Homo sapiens: one gene and its partners. The protein of the gene in region 2 purifies or fractionates together with the protein of the main gene of each other region. This does not show direct contact. Each region holds a gene or a part of one and is shown on either strand. Other genes may lie near its edges. The genes, in order: EPB41, WDR3 and ANKRD26.

Region 1 (3,657 bases), about 89 Mb from region 2:
AAAAGTAGTCAAGCATTGCTTAGAGAAATTCCATGTGGAAAAAAAAATTAGCAAAAACAAAAAAATAAAAATTCCGTCCGGGCACAGTGGTTCATGCCTGTAATCCCAGCACATTGGGAGGCCAAGGCAAGTGGATCACCTGAGGTCAGGAGTTTGAGACCACCCTGACCAACATAGTGAAAGCGTGTCTCTATTAAAAATACAAAAAATTAGCTGGGCATGATGGCGGGTGCCTGTAATCCCAGCTACTTAGGAGGCTGAGGCAGGAGAATCACTTGAACCCGGGAGGCGGAGGTTGCAGTGAGCCGAGATCGCGCCACGGCACTCCAGCCTGGGCAACAAGAGCGAAACTCCGTCTCAAAAAAAAAAAAAAAAAAAAAATCACACGTGGAGGTAAGTGAGGGTAACTCCCCTTAATCGGACTGACTTTAGCTACAATTAATGCAATCCCAGAGTCCCTGGTAAATACAGGTTCCCATTCCTTACTCCTCTCTTCCTTCTACCATACACAGACAGGTGCTTTGGAAATGTTGAGGCATACTTTTCAACCCAAAGGGAGAGAAATGGATTCATTTTGTCTTGCTTAAGATGATCTCACCTGAGCTAAATAAAAGAGTGCCAGTCATACAATGAAAGGAATTTTAATAGCAGGCTTAAAATAGAAACGTTATAAATAATTTATCCTTGAAAAATACTTAAGTGAGAATAATACCTGAAAAACGTGTGATGTTCTACACAGACTTTCCATAATTTCTTAGCTGCTCGGTAACTGGGAAGTTTGAATCCGATGGTACTTTCATACTGCTCTTGCTACAAAAACACAAATAAACATGGGACATGAAGTATTACATGTGATACAGTACCAGATTACAGTGATACAGTACCAGAGAAATATGGTGCCACAGAAGAGGCCATTGTTACCAATTTAAGGACATAAAATGTCATTTGGAATTTTTTCCTACTTACTGAAAGAAATTCACTCACTGAGGGTGGCTTTTTCCAAAGCAAGAAAGCCAGGGAATGCATCTCATATAATTTAAGCTTTTTTTTTTTTTTCCAGAAAACACACACACATTCATTATACATTTTTCTGAGACACAATTAAGTCACCTCTTGATTGTCCAGACACTGCTTTTCCTTAGTCACTATCTGCATTTGGGACACTGTTCAATGAACAGGGAATGGGATATTGACCAAGTCCTCCAATCAATCAATATTATTATGCAATAGAAATTAGTAATAGGAGCTAAAGATTTTAGTTCAAGCCAGATTTTTAAATCAATTTTTTAAATTGACAAATAAAAATTGTACATACTTATCATCTACAACATGTTGTTTTGAAATATGTATACCTGCCAGGCACGGTGGCTTACGCCTGTAATCCCAGCACTTTGGGAGGCCGAGGTGGGCAGATCACAAGGTCAGGAGTTCAAGACCAGCCTGACCAACATGGTGAAACCTCATTTCTACTAAAAATACAAAAAAAATTAGCCGGGCATGGTGGCACGCGCCTGTAATTCCAGCTACTCAGGAGGCTGAGGTAGGAGAATCACTTGAACCTGAGAGGTAGAGGTTGCGGTGAGCTGAGATGGCGCCACTGCACTCCAGCCTGGGTGACAAAGCGAGACTTCTTCTTCCAAAAAAAAAAAAAAAAAAAAAAAACAACAAACAAACAAACCCAAGAAACACGTATACATTGTGAAATGGCTAAATTGAGCTGATTAACATATGTATTACCTGACACACTTATTATTTTTTTGTGGTGAGAAAACTTAAAATCTAGTCTCTTAGCAATTTTTCAAGAGAACAATACATTGTTATTAATGATAGTCACCATGTTGTACAATAGATCTCTTGAACTTATTCCTCAGATTCTTGAATCATTAAATATTTCTTTTTTCCTTTGATTGATCATTAATTTATCTAGATTCCTCTTATACTGAAGCAAAACATATTCTCCCAGGGTTACTAGAAACACTGTCCTGCTGACCTCTTGCCTCTTTATTTCTACTTTAAGCATATTTTATAAGATGGAAAGGAAACTGACATTTATTTTGAGTGCCTACTATTGCCAGTAACACTATGATTAGATAATATCATCTATATTTTTAGACATGAAGAAACTGAGGTCAGAGAAGTTATTTGCTCAGACTGACAGCTATGAAATGACAGAACCAGATTTTTACCCTCTTCACCATACCATGCCACTGCTAAATCATCTACTGCTGCCACAATACTTTTTCTCAAAATCCTGTTGTTCCTGATTGCCTTCTAAATAAGAATTCTACATTTTTAGAAGCTAAGGATTTCCCATTTTCATATTAACGTGTGTGAGGGATGAGATTCTAATTTGCTGTTATATTCCTAGTCCCTAGAATAGTGTCCAACACAGGAAAGCTCTCAATAAATATTTGTTGATTGAATAACTCTTGAATTTGAAATTTTAAGGGAAGACACTGACTGCTCTGTGCTAGGCATAGGTAAAATAATTATGGTACAAAATAAATGCTTCTATGGTAATCCCTATCCAAGATTTTTAAGGCTCCACATCCAGAATTTGCAGGCACAAATAATTAGCCATTATTCACCAGCAGATGGTGATATATACACACAAAAGCCACCTTAGGTTAGTATCATTTCCTATATAGAACTTACACAGCTGTCATCTCATTTGATCTTCAAATAACTATGATGGAGAAGGTATTATCCTGCCCAAATGACAAGGAAGCTGAGCCTTAGATTTGTCCAGGTCTTTTGCTTAGTATGTGGCAGAAAAGAAGTCAGAACTTTTTAAAAAACTTTAATTCCTACTTAAACAATTTTATGCTATTCCATAATGGCTCTTCAATACAAAAGTTAAATTTGGCCAGCATTAGTATATCCCCAAACCAACTAATAAATGAATTAACTGGTACAAAGTTGAACATCCAACTCTTATTAAAAATCTAGAACTTGGCCCTAGAACTCACTCTCAGTAACCACGAGAAGCTATGCATACAAATAAATTTTAATTATATGAGATAAAGGATTGGTGATGCCAAACATGAGTAATTTATCCCTATAAATAATTTTAAAATCTCATGCTACTCAATTTAAAAATATTTTTCCATTAAGTTTTTGCTTGGCGTAAACAAGGAACAAATGTATCAGTCCAAGTTTAACTTTTTGCAATGGTATATTTACTTACAAAAAGTGAAATGTCCAGAAGACCAGTAGTAAGGAAAAGAAGTAGCATCACAGGACTGATCAACTTAGAAAACGGAATTATCAGCCCTTCAATAGTTAACTATAGAGAGACTTCTCAGATGACTTAATAAGGAAAATGGAAATGTAGATATTTCAGATACAGACTGTGTCTGGTTTGGGAGGAAGGAAATATAAATTCTGTACCTCTCCAGGCCGAATCTTGATGAAAAAGCTACTACGTTTATAAGAAATCTTCAGCACTTTGGGCCAAGGGAAGCGGTTAATTCTCAGCTTATCTTTGTAAACCAGAAGGCCACTAGAGCAGACACCTAGGATGATATCTACTCCTTCCAAGTCCTGAAAAAGAAAAATGTTAGGATTTCAGTCTGGAGCAAAGTACTCAATACACTGTTGACTATTACTAGATAATCTGAAGATAACAACCAAAAACAGTTACAAAACATACAATGA
Region 2 (3,309 bases):
TTTAGTCATGAAAAGCACAGCCCTTAACAAGTATTTTACCTGTTTTAACAAGCAGCAATTATGATAAACGACCAAAAGACTTTCCCCAGGGAAAAGAAAATCCAATGGTCCAGAGAACTTCTACAATTTATTCCTCCACACTTGGAGTCTTCATGTCTCGTAAAGTTTCTCCACATTAGGTACAGTAAGTAATAAATGGGAATTTGATTGTCAAGCATTCAAATTTGAGGTATTAGACCCCAGGTTTCTTCCCCTCTTCTTATAGTCAGAAACCTATAAGCCACCTGGCCTGAATGAATGAAAATATTTGTTTAGGCCGGGCCCGGTGGCTCACACCTGTAATCCCAGCACTTTGGGAGGCCGAGGTGGGTGGATCACAAGGTCAGGAGATCGAGACCATCCTGGCTAACTTGGTGAAACCCCGTCTCTACTAAACAATAGAAAAAATCAGCCAAGTGTGGTGGCGGGTGCCTGTAGTCCCAGCTACTCTGGAGGCTGAGGCAGGAGAATGGCGTGAACCCAGGAAGCGGAGCTTGCAGTGAGCCAAGATCGTGCCACTGCACTCCAGCCTGGGAGACAGAGCGAGACTCTGTCTCAAAAAAAAAAAAAAAGAAAATATTTGTTTAAATAACTATACTAGTTGCTTCTTTATATATATTATAAAATGTAATGCTCATGCAAGGTAGAATTCAGTGCTTTATACCCTAATCTTGGAAGACACATCCCATTATATTTACTGTATTCTGTTCACTAGAAGCCAGTCACTAGGTCCGACCCCATACTCAAGGGGAAGGGATACACAAGGGCAACACTGCCAGGCCCTATGTAAGAGTTGGGCTCAGTGACTGTTACACAATGTGTACTGTGTTCTAAAAACATACCAGGGCTGCTTGGATCCCAAAAACCTCAGAAATAAAGAGAAAGGACTTGAATATATGGTGATACTACCTTTAAGAACCTTAGCCCCATCTCAAACTTAGGAGCTTAAATTGTGAGGAATGGGGGTGGATTGCAGACAGTAACTGTAAGCCAATGTGGTTTCTTCATTAAGCTTCTGCTCACAACCTCCCTCTCTTTCTGAAGACTAATCTGGCCTGAAAAGGCTGCATTGAGCAGGCTCATCATTTACAGCTAAGTGAATAGAGTCCTATATACAGTCCTGTACCTACCAACAGATACCATTGCTTTCCTGGGCACTGTCCTAGATCTCTGCTGGAGATTTGCTAGATATCTTTAGAATGAGATATAATTTATGACATTTGCCATTGAGAAACAATTTAATACCAAATATACAAAGCACCTAGCTTCCAGCCAGTGAATTTCAAAATTTTTAAGCATATTTTCTCTAAGTGGATGGATATATACATTTTTAAAAATAAGCCTAAATGTTTTACTCCCAATACATCATTCAAGAGCCTTTTTTTTTTTTTTCAATGGAGTCTGGCTCTGTTGCCCAGACTGGAGTGCAGTGGCACAATCTCAGCTCACTGCAATCTCAAAAGGCTTTTCTTTATGGTACTACAGAATTTCTATAGGTAACTTACTTCACAATATGCAAGAGATATTAGTCATTAGATGGTTTTTATATTAAGGATTATATACAGCCAATGGCTGACTAAGGCAATGAATACTGACTTAATGACTAGAAATTTGCCTGGCTTAAAATTTACTTTATAATGCACCTATTGACCTTAAACTTTTAGAGTTAAAGAGTTTCAAGTATTTTGACCAAAAATTGTAACTTGGCTAGGTTCTGTACATGTCACTTTATCATAAAAGTTCTCCTTCTCTTCGATTAGTATAACACTTAGCAGACAGAAACATCTTTACATTCCCTAGCACTATCAGGCTTTTGAGTTATAAATGGTGGCAAAGCTACGGGAAAACAGCAACTTTTAACATAAGAGTAATTATTGATGATGTATACATCTCGAATGCCCTCCTGGAACTTGTTTTGGTTTGGAAACCATCAAAAATGTTACTAGAAAGTGACATTTATGTTCTGATGAGCAACTCTAAGAAGGATATTGAATCAACTTCTGTTCTCATAAAAAATTAAATTTTTTTTCAAGAATTAACTCCTCTCCCTGGTGGCAGGAATAGCTGCCTAAACAACACTGACTCCTTGGAAAGCACCTAGAATGCATTATCCTGCCTGCCTATTCTCTTGCCTTCATAGTTATGCCTTCAGAAACTCTATGCCAAAATTCACTTATTTATTCTGCCCAACAAATAACACCACTGCATCCCTTACTCACTTCAGTGATTGTGTTATGCTCAAGAACATTAAGACTTGTGGTTTGGGACACAAATCGGCAAGCCACAAGGACTGCATATCTGAGCCTAGAAGAAAATGGTGGCCCCACAACACAGTAACTTGGTTGCAATGACCAAATTCAGACAGAAACCATAGTTTTAAATCTTTGGGATTAACAACAACAAAAAAGATAAAAAGCAAAACTGTCTCAAGAAGATACAGAACATCTAAACAGGCCTGTAACAAGAAGTATGATTTAGTCATTTATAAACTTCCCCAAAAGAAAAGCCCAGACCCAGAGGTATCTGTCAATATCTTTTCCTAGAACATTCCCCAAATCCTTACCATGAAGATATACAGTAGACAATCCGTTGAACATGGGTTTTAACCACTTGGCTCCACTGTTATACAGATTTTTTTTTACTATTATTATTTTGGAGATGGAGTCTCACTGTGTTGCCCAGGCTGGAATGCTGGTGGCACTGTCTTGGCTAACTGCAATCTCCGCCTGCCGGGTTCAAGTGATTCTCCTGTCTCAGCCTCCTGAGTAGCTGGGATTACAAGCGCCTGCCACCACGCCCAGCTAGTTTTTTGTATTTTTAGTAGAGATGAGGTTTCACCATGTTGGCCAGGCTGGTCTGGAACTCCTGACCTTGTGATCCGCCTGCCTCGGCCTCCCACAGTGGTGGGATTACAGGCGTGAGCCACTGCACGCAGCCCAGATATTTTCAATAAATATATTGGAAAAATTTTTGGAGATCTGAAACAATGAGAAAAGTTTCAGATGAAAAAAATTAGGAAAAAAGTAGTTATATCATGAATGCACAAAATATATGTAGATACTAGACTATTTTATCATTTACTGCCATAAAATACACGCAAATCTATTATCAACATTAACACACACAAATACAGATCATACATGGTGCAATTCACAGTTTTGGGAGAAATGTAAAATAATGTAAAGATGCAGTATTAAATCATAGCTGCATAAAATGAACTGTAATACACAGTATGTTACTGAAATAATTTCACAGCCACCTCCTGTTGCT
Region 3 (3,657 bases), on a different chromosome or scaffold from region 2:
ACCTGCTGCCTTCTGGAATGCTCCACTGGTAAGATTCCTGAGGATGCCATTAAAAATACTTGTCTTTAAAGGGTAAATATGTGACATGATAAATATGTTAATTTGCTTGACTATAATAACCATTTCACCATGTACAAATATATCAAAAACATCATGTTTTGATACATACAATTAATAAAACTAATAACAAAGGAAAAAGCCCAGCTAAAAATACTTGTATTTAGTAAACCAGTTTAGAGATTAAAAAATTCCTCAAGACATGTGCAAGCATTTGCTTTCACCACCCTTTTACATTTATTTCACCCATTATCTGGAAAAATATTAGGCATCTGGCCCCAAGGAATAATTCAGAGCAAAAAATTGTAGGGGAAAAGAAGATAGCTGAGTTGGTGATCAAAAAGAACTAAAGAGTCTCAAAGGCAGTTAGCTCCTAACATTGTCCCCAAGGCATCAGAGGTGGGGCCTGACCTGTTTTCCACACACTCCCTCAGGCTGACCAAGGTGTTATTTTTAACCACTTTATAAAATATACTTCCCTTCATCCCTACGTTAATCATTCCCTATTTCACTAGCATGCCTTTAAGTAGTAGAAAAACTATACAGGGTAGTTTGTCTCATGGCACCCTGTAGTGATAATACCAGATATCACAATCAAGGAAAGTTCATTTATGGAGTGCCAGAATGTGCAGAGTAGTAGTGATACTTGACCCTTCTGGTTTAAGTTGTAATTTTCCAAAAAACAGCCCAACTCATTAATAATTATATTTATGGCAATGCTGATAAGCAATCTGATGACAATATCAATGTCTAAATTACAAAGTTTTAAAAGCACATAGCTGAAAGACATAGATCCAGTTAACTACCTAAGAATATTAACGGAAAAGCCATATAAAATTAAAAAAAAAAAAACAGAGGAAAGACATAAACTGTCCTGGACTCACATTTTAAAGGTAAGTTAATTTACTAACATTTTCCAAAATTATATTACCTATTTAGCTTTCACTTCCCATTAATCTCATGAACCTAAGAATTATGCTTTCAAGGCAAATTAATGAGCTTAATTTATTTCCTATGATTCTATATTTTGACTTACTTGGTTAGTTTACTTGACAAAGATTTTCTAACTTTTAATTCTTCTAGATAGAGTTGCTTATATTTTTCCAGTTCGGTTTTATTAAAGTCTTCTTGAGAAGTTTTTATTTTGGAGAGTTCAGATTCCAGATCTTTAATTCTGAGTTCCATCTGACTTTTCATTGAAGCAAAATTATTCTCTCTAAACTGCTCTAAGTTTTCTTGAGATGCTGCTTGTGCCTAAAACAAATTAAAAGCATATGTTTTAAAAATATATAACCTGAGTAAGACCATGGTCACCTACTCGGTGTCTAAGGGCTGTTTTGTTTTTAACCCAAACTCCAAAAAGAGAAAGATCTCTGTGCCAGCAGGCATTGGTCAAAGAGATAAGAGGACATCCCAGGGTTCTAATTGAAAAGGGAATCCAAATACTTCCAAAGAAATGAAAGTGAGTTTCTACTAGAGAAGCATTTTCATCCTTGATGAAGTAATCAAAACAATAAAGGCTGACTGGCAACCCAGATGTCTAACGATGGGGGGAAATGTCATATAGAAAATAAAAAATTATAATTGGTAACATAAGGAAAACCTAAGAAAGAAAATGACTACAAATGTGGAGATATTTTCGAATGAAAAATCTTATAAAAATTATTTTTGTGTTAAAATATATTCATGGGGAAGACTTGAATATGCTTAAAAATTTTGATGTGATATTCCATTTTATGAATACACCTGGCAAAGTAAATTAAAGCAATCATCTGTATGTAAGATACAGGAACTTAGAGCTTCTTAGGGATAAATGCTGTGCGCATCAATACATGCTGAGAAAAAAGCCCAAGGTGTTGGATCTCTTACAGTAATTCTACCTGCTGGAGCATAAGGTTATGGAATCACCTGGACTACAAGTAAAGGAATGTGGAGTGTGATCCTGAGCCTGACTAGCTCTATGGCTTGGGCCCTGCTGTTTAACCTTTCCCTAGGTCTCTTCATCTGTAAAATGGGAAACTACACTGGCTTATCACTAAGATTTCTTCCTATTCTCATTCCATGTCTCTAAGAGCTAACATGCAGAGCTTTGTAAGACTATCATAAATACCATGTGAAGAAATCTGTGTTATCATGGATTGTTACCACCTTGGCCTTGTAGATTGTGTTCCAAGACTCCTATCTCTCACTAGCCTGAGGGAAGGGAAAGAGCTGAGAATGAGGAGTGAAGACTTTCTACTCTCACAACGGCTACATATTTTCAAGTGGCCCAGTTGAAATTTCTCTGTTAATTTTCACATCCTTTCCACCAGTTTGCACCCTCCATCCTCTCTCATAAGCACAGGGGTCCCACGCAGTTCTCAATCGCTCTTTATCCCAACTAAAACAAATTTGTTAAATTATTGAGTTTTAATCACTCATAGACACACAAACTCATGTTATTAAGTAGATTTTTATCACTCACTCAGACACACACACACTCACACACTCATATACCCATGTGGGTAAGAGAGGAAAGACATTCCTTTGGCTTTGTTTATTTTAGAGACAGGGTCTCAGTCTGTCGCCCATGCTTCAGTTCAGTGGCACAATCATAGCTCACCGCAGCCTTGAAAACTCCTGGGCTTACATGATCCTCTCACCTCAGCCTCCCAAGTACCTGGGACTACAGCCATGCACCACCATGCCTGGCTAATTACTTTTTTAAATTTTTGTAGAGATGGGGTCTCACTTTGTTGCCTAGGTTGGTCTTGAACTCCTGGGCTCAAGTGGTCCTCCCGCCTCAGCCCTCAAAGTGCTAGGATTACAGGTGTGAGCTACCATGCCCAGCCTAATTTGTTTGTTTTGTTTTGTATTTGAGACGGAGTCTAGCTCTCACCATCTTGCCTCACTGCAACCTCCGCCTCCCAGATTCAAGCAGTTCTCCTGCCTCAGTCTCCCGAGTAACTGGGACTACAGGCATGTGCCACCACGCCTGGCTGATTATTTTTTTAAATTTTTTAGTAGATATGGGTTTTCACTATGTTGGCCAGGCTGGTCTGGAACTCCTGACCTCGTGATCCGTCCACCTCGGCTTCCCAAAGTGCTGGGATTACAGGCATGAGCCACCGTGCCCAGCTTTGTTTTTTTTTTTTTAAGGCAAAAACAACACAAGTTGTGTTAAAGTCCCAGTGGTTTCCTGGGATGAAGTAGGGGGAATTAACTGCAAAAGGGCAAGAGAGAACTTTCTGGAAATGTTCTCTGTTGAGAGGGTGGTTAAGCAAGTATATACTTGGGTCAAACTGTTAAAATGGTTGTGTTTAATTATTTGTAAATTATCCCTTAATAAAATTTAATTTATATAAAACCTGGGTAATTATTGTGTATTTTTTTCCTTTACTTTTGAGTTAGTGATTCAGAGAGTAATTTTAAATATGTGAAAAAAAAGCTGAAGTTTAAAATATTTATCAGCCAGGTTTGGTGGCTCATGCCTGTAATCTCAGCACTTTGGGAGACCTAAGCAGGAGGATCACTTGAAGCCAAGAGTTCGAGACCAGCCTGGGCAACAAAGCAAGACTCTGTTTCTACCAAAAATAAGAATTAAAAATTTAGCCAGGCATC

The links.
Region 1: the proteins of WDR3 (region 2) and EPB41 purify together in Homo sapiens (affinity purification with mass spectrometry; one large-scale study listed by BioGRID and IntAct). This does not show direct contact.
Region 3: the proteins of WDR3 (region 2) and ANKRD26 purify together in Homo sapiens (affinity purification with mass spectrometry; one large-scale study listed by BioGRID and IntAct). This does not show direct contact.

The regions. Positions count from the first base shown.
Region 1 is NC_000001.11:29,032,979-29,036,635, reverse strand, and holds part of EPB41 (protein 4.1), read right to left. Parts: intron 3,544-3,657; coding exon 3,391-3,543; intron 811-3,390; coding exon 713-810; intron 1-712. UniProt on the Homo sapiens protein: Protein 4.1 is a major structural element of the erythrocyte membrane skeleton. It plays a key role in regulating membrane physical properties of mechanical stability and deformability by stabilizing spectrin-actin interaction. Recruits DLG1 to membranes.
Region 2 is NC_000001.11:117,960,669-117,963,977, reverse strand, and holds part of WDR3 (WD repeat-containing protein 3), read right to left. Parts: 3' UTR 180-3,309; coding exon of another isoform or gene 40-179; 3' UTR 1-39. Other genes in the region: SPAG17 (sperm-associated antigen 17), read left to right, coding at 40-179. UniProt on the Homo sapiens protein: Part of the small subunit (SSU) processome, first precursor of the small eukaryotic ribosomal subunit.
Region 3 is NC_000010.11:27,013,401-27,017,057, forward strand, and holds part of ANKRD26 (ankyrin repeat domain-containing protein 26), read right to left. Parts: intron 1,312-3,657; coding exon 1,094-1,311; intron 1-1,093. UniProt on the Homo sapiens protein: Acts as a regulator of adipogenesis. Involved in the regulation of the feeding behavior.